2 separate regions of the Homo sapiens genome follow, and region 1 is linked to region 2. The links come from fine-mapping of genetic effects on gene expression. A gene starts in region 2. The other region holds a variant in brackets. All regions are shown on one strand. Distances are from middle to middle. Region 1 has its middle 180 kb from the start of MIR4522. Region 2 holds the start of WSB1 (WD repeat and SOCS box containing 1).

Region 1 (4,397 bases), 180 kb before region 2:
TCTTAAATATATCTTTATAAAGATATGTAATTATATATCTTTATATATCTCTTTAAGACGTATATATATATTTACACATTTACAAAACACAGTTTTTCTTTTCTCTCTCAATAAATTTACCAGGTTATATTTATTTTGTCACATCCTAGCCTAACAAATCTTGTTTTGTGTGTGTGTGTGTGTGTGTGTGTGTGTGTGTGTGTATCATAGATCTTTATATAGTGTATATATAGGTAGATCTAGATATATATCTTTATAATATATATAATTTGTTTGTATGCATATATATGTGTGTGTATATATATATACACACACATACATATATATGATAATCTTACCTCCTAAAGGAAATTTGAAGAGATATGTATAACTATATATAGATACAACTGGATTTATTAGTCTAGGATGTGACAAAATATTCAATTTGAAACTGTATTAGCAGCTTTTTAGATTTCATTTATGAGTGGTGCATTATAATATGAAGGAGTTGTAAAACTTTTAAGGATTTTGCAGTCCGAAGATATGAAATATAATCCCAAGTCCACCATTCACTAGCTATTTGTCTGTACTAAAGTCATTTAGCCACTAAGGACATCAGCCTCCCTTTCATCATTTTTAAAATGAGGATAATAATAACTGCCCTTCACACTGTGTAGGTTTGTTGCAAGGCCCAAATGAGGTGATATTTTTAAAATTGCTTCATCAACAACAAAACACTCTCGCACTTCTCTCTCTGTCTTGATCTCTCTTTCTCTCTCTCTTCTCCCTCCCTCTCTCCCTCTCTTTCTGACACACATATCCCACACACATTTCCACATAAAGCTCCCCGCTCAATCCCTTGAGATTATAAATGCCATCACAGAAATATATCAAGTGCCTCTGACAGCTTCTGGCTTCTGTTGCTCACTTTGTTTTTTTCTTTCTTTTTTTTTCTTTTTTTACTTAGAACAAATTGAATCATGCTATTAGGTACCACTTCTTTAATGATTTCATCTATTTGTCACTTCAAAAGGTTTTATTTTTGACCCCAGGCCCTCTGAAAGCCTGTCAGATATAATCAGCTGTTATTCAATTTGTCTGAATATTGAGGTTCATACCACAACTAGAGAAACTGGTAGTGGAGGCACTTCTGTCTTGGAATATAATCAATGGCTGAAATAACTTTGTCATTAAGAATGAAGATTTCCCCTCACAAGGTAACAGAGGATTTGGAAATCTTTAAAATGTGGAATTTCAATAATATTATTCCCCATCACTCCTACCTACCACTTTACTTCTGTCTCACATCTGTTTACACCTAACACATTAGTGGAATCCCAAAGCATTAGTATCCACATACCAGATCAGAAATCCAAACCCAGCACTCATTACCACTAGCTGCATATAACATTTTTATAATTATTAAGTTGCCACTCTAGAAGAGAAGAAATGTAATTTGTATACATACAAATGTGTGTGTGTGTGTATAAGACATGCATTTCTTCACTTCTAGAGTGGCAACTTAATACTTATAAAAGATATATGTATATATATATATATATACGTACACACATATTTGTATGATTTTGAATGTAAATTGTTTTGGAGCTATAGAGCGTAATAAATTTACCAATAGTTTGCATAATATTTATGTATTTATGTTAATATATTTTTAATGATTTTATATATATAGATAGAATGACTGCCTTCACATATGTGTTAAGATACTTTATTGTAAAAGTAATAAAAACATAACTAAAATTGCCACACAGAATATAGCATATTCATTGGCTTATGAATCTGAAGGTCTAGAATTCCTCTCAGGCTTCAGGCAAGGACTGACCCAAGAGTTTAGCGGTATTACTATCTGCCAGCTTTTACTTCATTGAT[C/G]ATGACTTCATTTTAAGACAGTCTTCCCTCATAATCTCAGTCTATCCTATTCCACTTTCAAATTTATATGCATAACACTTTCAACAGTCACCAACCCCTCTCTGTTTAGCCCACCATTGTAACATACCCATTTCTGAACAAATAGATGATTGTGTGTATTGCTTATTGACTTAGCTTAGGTTACAAACTCCCCCTCTGGAATAAGGTCATTATCATCTTACCCATAATCACAGTGATCTCTAGAGATTGCAACTACTGAAATCAGAAAGATGCAGAGTGGGAATAAGTAAAACCTATTCTAATAATAAAAGAGTAAATTTTACATGTGCACATAGGTATATTTATTGTCTGGATTCTAATTCCTGATGCAAAGAATAAAGACAGATTCTCCCATGAGTGAATAAAATAAATTTTTTTTCATGAACTATTAGGTTAAGACACATAAAACTGCCACATGGAGGTGCCAATTGGTCAAAACGCAGCAACTTCATACTGTTCAACCTAAAAGAAGGCCGCCGTAGGGAAAACTGGCCACAGTTGCTTTACCTATACTAAAGACCACGACCATCAGTACATGTAATATCCTCCATTGTTTCCCTAGCTTATTTAATATATCTGTGTGGCAATGATCTCATTCGTTTTCCTAAAATTATATGTTTAATTTTTTCAAAAGTTGCTATAGCAAGATAGAAACCTCCTAAAGCTGAATATCCCTTGAATGCGTCATTGGTATATTTTAGCCTCAAGCTTCACATGAAGGATCATTATCCATACATATATTTTGCAGATGTAAATTATTTGTCTGTGCAGTGGATTGGAGTGTAGGTCCTTTGTATGTATGAAATAGACCCCTTTATTTCTGGGAAAACATTGTTCTCTTCGTGGGTTTCCTGTGATCACGTGTTGTTGCTATCCACGTGTAGGTCTTCTCTGAACTCCTGTAGGATGATTCGGCCCCAGCTCTGGTTTTGTTGACTGCTGAATCATGTAAATGGAGCCTTAGTGAAAAATATCTCTATTGAAATGCCTTGTCAGAAATCAATAATAGCTGATCTTTACAGCAAAATACATACCAAAAGCTGGTTTTACAAAACATTATGTAAGGATGATTGCTTCTTTATTTTGTATAGACATACTATGTGCACTGAATTGTCAGCTCACTCATCAGGGACTTGATGAGTACTTCTGGCATCTTTGGGATAGTTTCATGTAGACAAACCCTTTAAGGGAAAAGCCCCAATAATTATGTTTCTGTTTCTATCAAAGGAAAACAAGATAGCCTATACTACAAAATAGGTATAGGTTGGCTGGGCGTGGTGGCTCATGCCTTTAATCCCAGCACTTTGGATGGCCGAGGCGGGCAGATCACGAGGTCAGGAGATCCGAGATCATCCTGGCTAACACAGTGAAACCCCGTCTCTACTAAAAAAATTCAAAAAAATTAGCCGGGCGTGCTGGTGGGTGCCTGTAGTCCCAGCTCCCCAGGATGCTGAGGCAGAGGAATGGCGTGAACCTGGGAGGCAGAGCTTGCAGGGAGCCGAGATCACACCACTGCACTCCAGCCTGGGCGACAGAGCGAGACCCCGTCTCAAAACAAAACAAAAAAAGGTATAGGTCATTGTCACTATTGGCAGGGAGCTAGAAATCATGCATGGGAGTGAATTCTAAAGATGTTAGACAATGGGCAACAAAATACAAAACTTGCTGAAGCTGAATTCTTTTGCACAAATGCATTCACCCTGAATTCAGGGTGTGATGTTTTGGCTACCACAATGAAAAGTGGCATTAATAGTCAGCTAGATTAGCTAACTGAAACCAAGTCTCAGTAATAGCTTATAGTTAATGAAGTCAAAATGTCTGAACTTTTACAGCACATTATAAAACAAGGTTCTCAAATTTCAGCAAGCATCAGGGTGATATGCATGGCTATTTTATTTTAAGACAGAGTCTCACTCTGTCGCCCAGGCTGGAGTGCAATGGTGCAATCTGCAACCTCTGCCTCCCAGGCTCCAGAGATTTTCTTCCCTTAGCCTCCTAAGTAGCTGGGATTACAGGTGCCCACCACCATGCCTGGGTAATATTTTTTTATTTTTATTTTTAGTGGAGGCGGGGTTTCACCATGTTTGCCAGGCTGGTTTCGAACTCCTGACTTCAAGTGATCCACCCGCCTCTGCCTCCCAAAGTGCTGGGATTACAGGCATGAGCCACCATGCCCAGCTTCATGGATGGCTATTTAAACACAGATTGCTGAATTGGGATCTCTGAGTTTCTAATGCAATAGTTTGGGATGGAGCCGCAAATATGGATTTTGAACAAGCTCTCATGCAAAGATGATGCTTATGTCAGGGGACCACACTTTAGAAACACTGTGATAAAGCCTACTTTCATAAAGTGAGACACATAGACAAGCAGCATCAACTAGAAGGCTCTACCCTCCTACCCTATATCTACTAAATCAGAAGTTATAATTCTAACAAGATCTCTAGGTGATTCATGTGCACATTAAAGTTGAGAAGCCCTACTTTAGA
Region 2 (4,397 bases):
GAATTTGTATGGTATAGTACAAGTAACAGGGATAATAGCAGTTGGTTAAAAGAATTAACTCAGACTGATATGAATGTTGGTACATGAGCTACAAGACTGCATTAAAGTTTTTCTTTTGTTCTACTCTAAAAATTCAGCAACTAGGCCCAGTGCCTGATACAGAGTGAGTCCTCAAGATATCGTTGACTGAAGCTAACAAAGTGATTTATTGATTTATTTATTTATTGAGACAGAGTTTCACTCTTGTCACCCAGGCTAGAGTGCAGTGGTGCAACCTCAGCTCACTGCAACCTCTGCCTCCCGGTTTCAAGCAATTCTCCTGCCTTAGCCTCCAGAGTAGCTGGGACTTCGCCACTACGCCTGGCTAATTTTTTGTATTTTTAGTAGAGATGGGGGTTTCACCATGTTGGCCAGGCTGGTCTCGAACTCCTGACACCCGCCTCAGCCTCCCAAAGCGCTGAGATTACAGGCGTGAGCCACCGCCCCCAGCCTAACAAAGTGATTTTTTTTTAAAGACGAGGGGCAGGCAGGGCGCAGTAGCTTAACGCCTCTAATCCTAGCACTTTGAGAGGCCGAGGTGGGCAGATCACAAGGTCAGGAGTTCAAGACCAGCCTGGCCAATATCGTGAAACCCCCTCCCTACTAAAAGGATGAAAAAAATTAGCTGGGCGTGGTGGCAGCCACCTGTAGTCCCAGCTACTCGGGAGGCTGAGGCAGGAGAATCGCCTGAACCCGGGAGGCAGAGGTTGCAGTGAGCCGAGTTGGCGCCACTGCACTCTGCTCTGGGAGACAGAGCAAGACTCCGTCTCAAAAAAAAAAATAAATAAATAACCAAAAAAAAAAAAAAGGAGGGGCGATGTTTTATTAAACATTTCGCTATTTGAAGAATTAATACACTCATGCAAAGAAAAGATGAAGTAAACATGCCCTACAGTGTTATCATTTGAGATCTCTTAAAAGCGGCTATGCAGCCGGGCGTGGTGGCTCACGTTGTAATCCCAGCACTTTGGGAGGCTGAGGCGGGCGGATCACTCGAGGCCAGGAGTTCGAGACTAGCCTGGCCAACAGGGTGAAACGCCCTCTGTACTAAAAATACAAAAATTACCCGGGCTTGGTGTCACATGCCTGTACAAATCCCAGCTACTGGGGAGGCTGAGGCAGGAGAATTGCCTGAACCCGGGAAACGGAGGTTGCAGTGAGCCAAGATCACGCCATTGCACCCCAGCCTGGGAGAAGCGAGACTCCGTCTCAAAAAAAAAAAAAAAAAAAAAAAAAAAAGCGGCTATGCAACACTCTACTCTGTCCCATGAATATCTGCCACATATTTGAATTCCCAGTCTTATACGCCCCAGGCCTTTGCAATGTTTAGGGTCCACACGAGAAGCCATTAAAATGCAAATACGTCATCTGTGACCGGGAACCAAGCTGGCATCTAGCAGATACTGACACATTTATCAGTCTGATGTGTGGACAACTAGGTGCCTCCCAGAGGCCTTCAGGTAAGGTGGAGGAAGGGCCAATTCTGAGCTGACACAGTGGGATCCATCTTGGCCAGGACAGTGGGATCCATCTTGGCCAGGACAAAGGCAGTCCAGAGAGGCCCCGCGGCGCGGTGCGGCGCGATCACGCCCGAGTCTCCTTCTCGTTCCCCTCGGCCCTTCCTAAAACCTGCTGGCTCAGGTCTGAACAATCGCAGCTGGACAGGTGGTGCACAACGATGTTAATTTTCATCCTGTCTTTTTCATCAGTGCATCCTTCAGTTCCCTATTACTTGTGGGCTGGGGAGTTGGCCAAATTGAGTGAAAACCTGAAATGTCTTTTTGTTCTTTTGGTTCAGCCAGTTTAAGTTCCATGCAATCTTTAAGCTAGGAGGCTAATAATAATACAATTCTCTGCTTGCCCTTTTCAAAGCCACTTCAGCTTATAAACTCCATATTAGACCATCCAGGCCCAGAAGACGCCACCGGCCTACAGGCAGAGTCAGCGGAACCAGCCTGGGCTGGATCTCCCCCTGCGAGGCCCCCAGGCAACGCCCGCGCCGGGCCGGGGAGATCACGTCCCGTGCGTCGGGAGGCGGGGGCCTCGGGCTGTGACGTCACGTGGCCGCGCCCCTGCCGCCCAGATATCTCCGGCGCCGCCCGCCATTTTGACTCCAGTGTCTCGTTTGCAGTCGGCGCTTTAGGGGAACTGTCTTCCTCCGCAGGCGCGAGGCTGGGTACAGGGTCTATTGTCTGTGGTTGACTCCGTACTTTGGTCTGAGGCCTTCGGGAGCTTTCCCGAGGCAGTTAGCAGAAGCCGCAGCGGCCGCCCCCGCCCGTCTCCTCTGTCCCTGGGCCCGGGAGGGACCAACTTGGCGTCACGCCCCTCAGCGGTCGCCACTCTCTTCTCTGTTGTTGGGTCCGCATCGTATTCCCGGAATCAGACGGTGCCCCATAGATGGCCAGCTTTCCCCCGAGGGTCAACGAGAAAGAGATCGGTGAGGATTGGGACCGTGGGTGGGCGCATGAGGGCCGAGGAGAGGCAGGGACTCCCCGGAGGAGGTTTGGGAGGAAGCGACTCCAAGTCTGAGGGAAGAGCTCCAGTGCGCCAGGGCCAGCCCACTAGCGAGGAGGAGGAAGCCGCCTCGGTGGGAGTTGGCTGAGGGGTAAACGGCACCGACGTGGATGCAGCACCTACTGTGCTCCCTCGCGGTTGCTGTGTGGCTGGGGCGGGCAAGGACCCCGGTTTCTTCGTCGGAGGTCCGCGCAGGGCTCTTGTCCTGGGAGTTCTTGGCTCAGGGCATGACTGTCGAGTGGACAGGGAAGGGCCACTCAGGGACTTTAGGTTTACAATGGGGAAAAGTAAACTTGTGGGTTGTAAGCGGTAATGAAAGGAGGGGGTCCTCGTGTGTACCAACCACTCTTAGATAGAAATGAGATGGAAGAGGTCCCAACAGCCTGGCAAAAGCAATACAGTATTTTTAAAATGGTGTGGCCTTAAGAAACGCAGCGGTTCGGGGGAGGAGACTTTTAGAATTATCTTTCAAACACTTAAGGGAGGAGCTGGGTGGTTGGGTGGAGTGACAGAAGGAAAGCTTTTGTGCGGAAGAGGAAACTCTGGAAAAGGCTTTTCTGGCTTAGTGTCTAGCCCTGGTCGGCTTAGTAAAGGGCAATTAGTGTTGAAGGTTGTGCGTCCACACCTACTTAGTGGCTCAGTGGAAAGCACGTCGCATTATTTAAATCCTCTTTTAAAGTAAAATAACTGGAACAACGTTTGACGGTGTTGGGGGGTGCTGTACATTGGCTGATAACACTTAGCAAACACTGATCTTACTGTGTGAAGTAATAATTAGCTGCGGCCGCTGAGCAGAGAGCATTTACATTTTCCTACTCTTGAAGTGAATGTGTGCCTTTACTAAGTACAAGGAGGAGTTATTTCTAGAGAAGGGAAGAGGCTGAAGTAGCCAAAACGCGCACTATTTTGTATGTGGGTGAATTTTTATATCTAGAAACAGCTGTTTTAGAATTCTGGACTTTTGTTGTCTTAGGGATGATTGATTAGGAAGGGACTTTAACCCTGGTTTTAATAACCATTTTTAAAGATACAAACACAGAAAAAAAAGGGAAAAAATTGTAGCAGAGTTCACACAGAAAAAAGAAAAAAAAAGATGCAAAGAACACAGAATTTGTGTCCAGTTATTATTTTAACTGTATTTTAAGACTAGAAAGTATGTCGCGAAGTGGGACAAAGAACTCAAAAGTTCTTATCAGTCCAGTGGGTTTTTCTTTTACTTTAGTACACCATAATGTTATAGACGAGTGATCTGCCTTTTTTTTAAATCTGTATTTTACTTCATCCTGATAAACCATTTTGAAAACTTTGCGGTCCTGTTTTCTCTCTCTCTTTTTTTTTTTTGAGATGGAGTTTTTGCTCTTGTTGCCCAGGCTGGAGTGCAATGGCACGATCTCGGCTCACTGCAACCTCCGGCTCCCGGTTTCAAGCGATTCTCCTCCCTCAGCCTCCTGAGTAGGTGGGATTACAGGCATGCACACGCCCGGCTAATTTTTGTGTTTTTAGTAGAGATGGGGTTTCTCCATGTTGGTCAGGCTGGTCTCGAACTCCCGACCTCAGGTGATCGCCCACCTCTGCCTCCCAAAGTGCTAGGATTACGGGCGTGAGCCACCCCGCCCAGATTTCCGGTTTTGTTTTCTAAGAGATGGATAGAGATGGATAGCATACCTACATAAAGTAGAACCATCCACTAAGTGTTCCCCCACTAGCCCCCTGATTTCTCTTTTCTTTTCTTTCTTTTTTTTTTTCATATTTAGGTCTCAGTGTTATTTCCTGGATACGTTATAAAAACTTACTAGCTAAGTGCCAGATATCTAGAAGAACTTTTGCTTTTTCTGAGCTTTTTT

What was found. PIP is the estimated chance that this variant, and not a neighbour inherited with it, causes the effect.
Region 1: its variant is the best candidate, but not a certain one, in a credible set for the expression of WSB1 in whole blood (TOPMed, PIP 0.77).

What each region holds. Positions count from the first base shown.
Region 1 is chr17:27,110,923-27,115,319 of GRCh38, forward strand. No RefSeq gene overlaps it. Among named protein-coding and RNA genes, the nearest start is that of MIR4522, 180 kb to the right of the region's middle. The variant C/G (reference allele first, on the strand shown) is at 1,870.
Region 2 is chr17:27,291,960-27,296,356 of GRCh38, forward strand. WSB1 (WD repeat and SOCS box containing 1) reads left to right here and starts at 2,155. Exons shown (of 9, transcript NM_015626.10): 1 at 2,155-2,476. The coding sequence starts at 2,437. MIR4522 (microRNA 4522) reads right to left here and starts at 2,037; the gene lies at 1,951-2,037. RefSeq lists enhancers at 1,884-1,933, 2,304-2,363, 2,374-2,433 and a silencer at 1,974-2,183.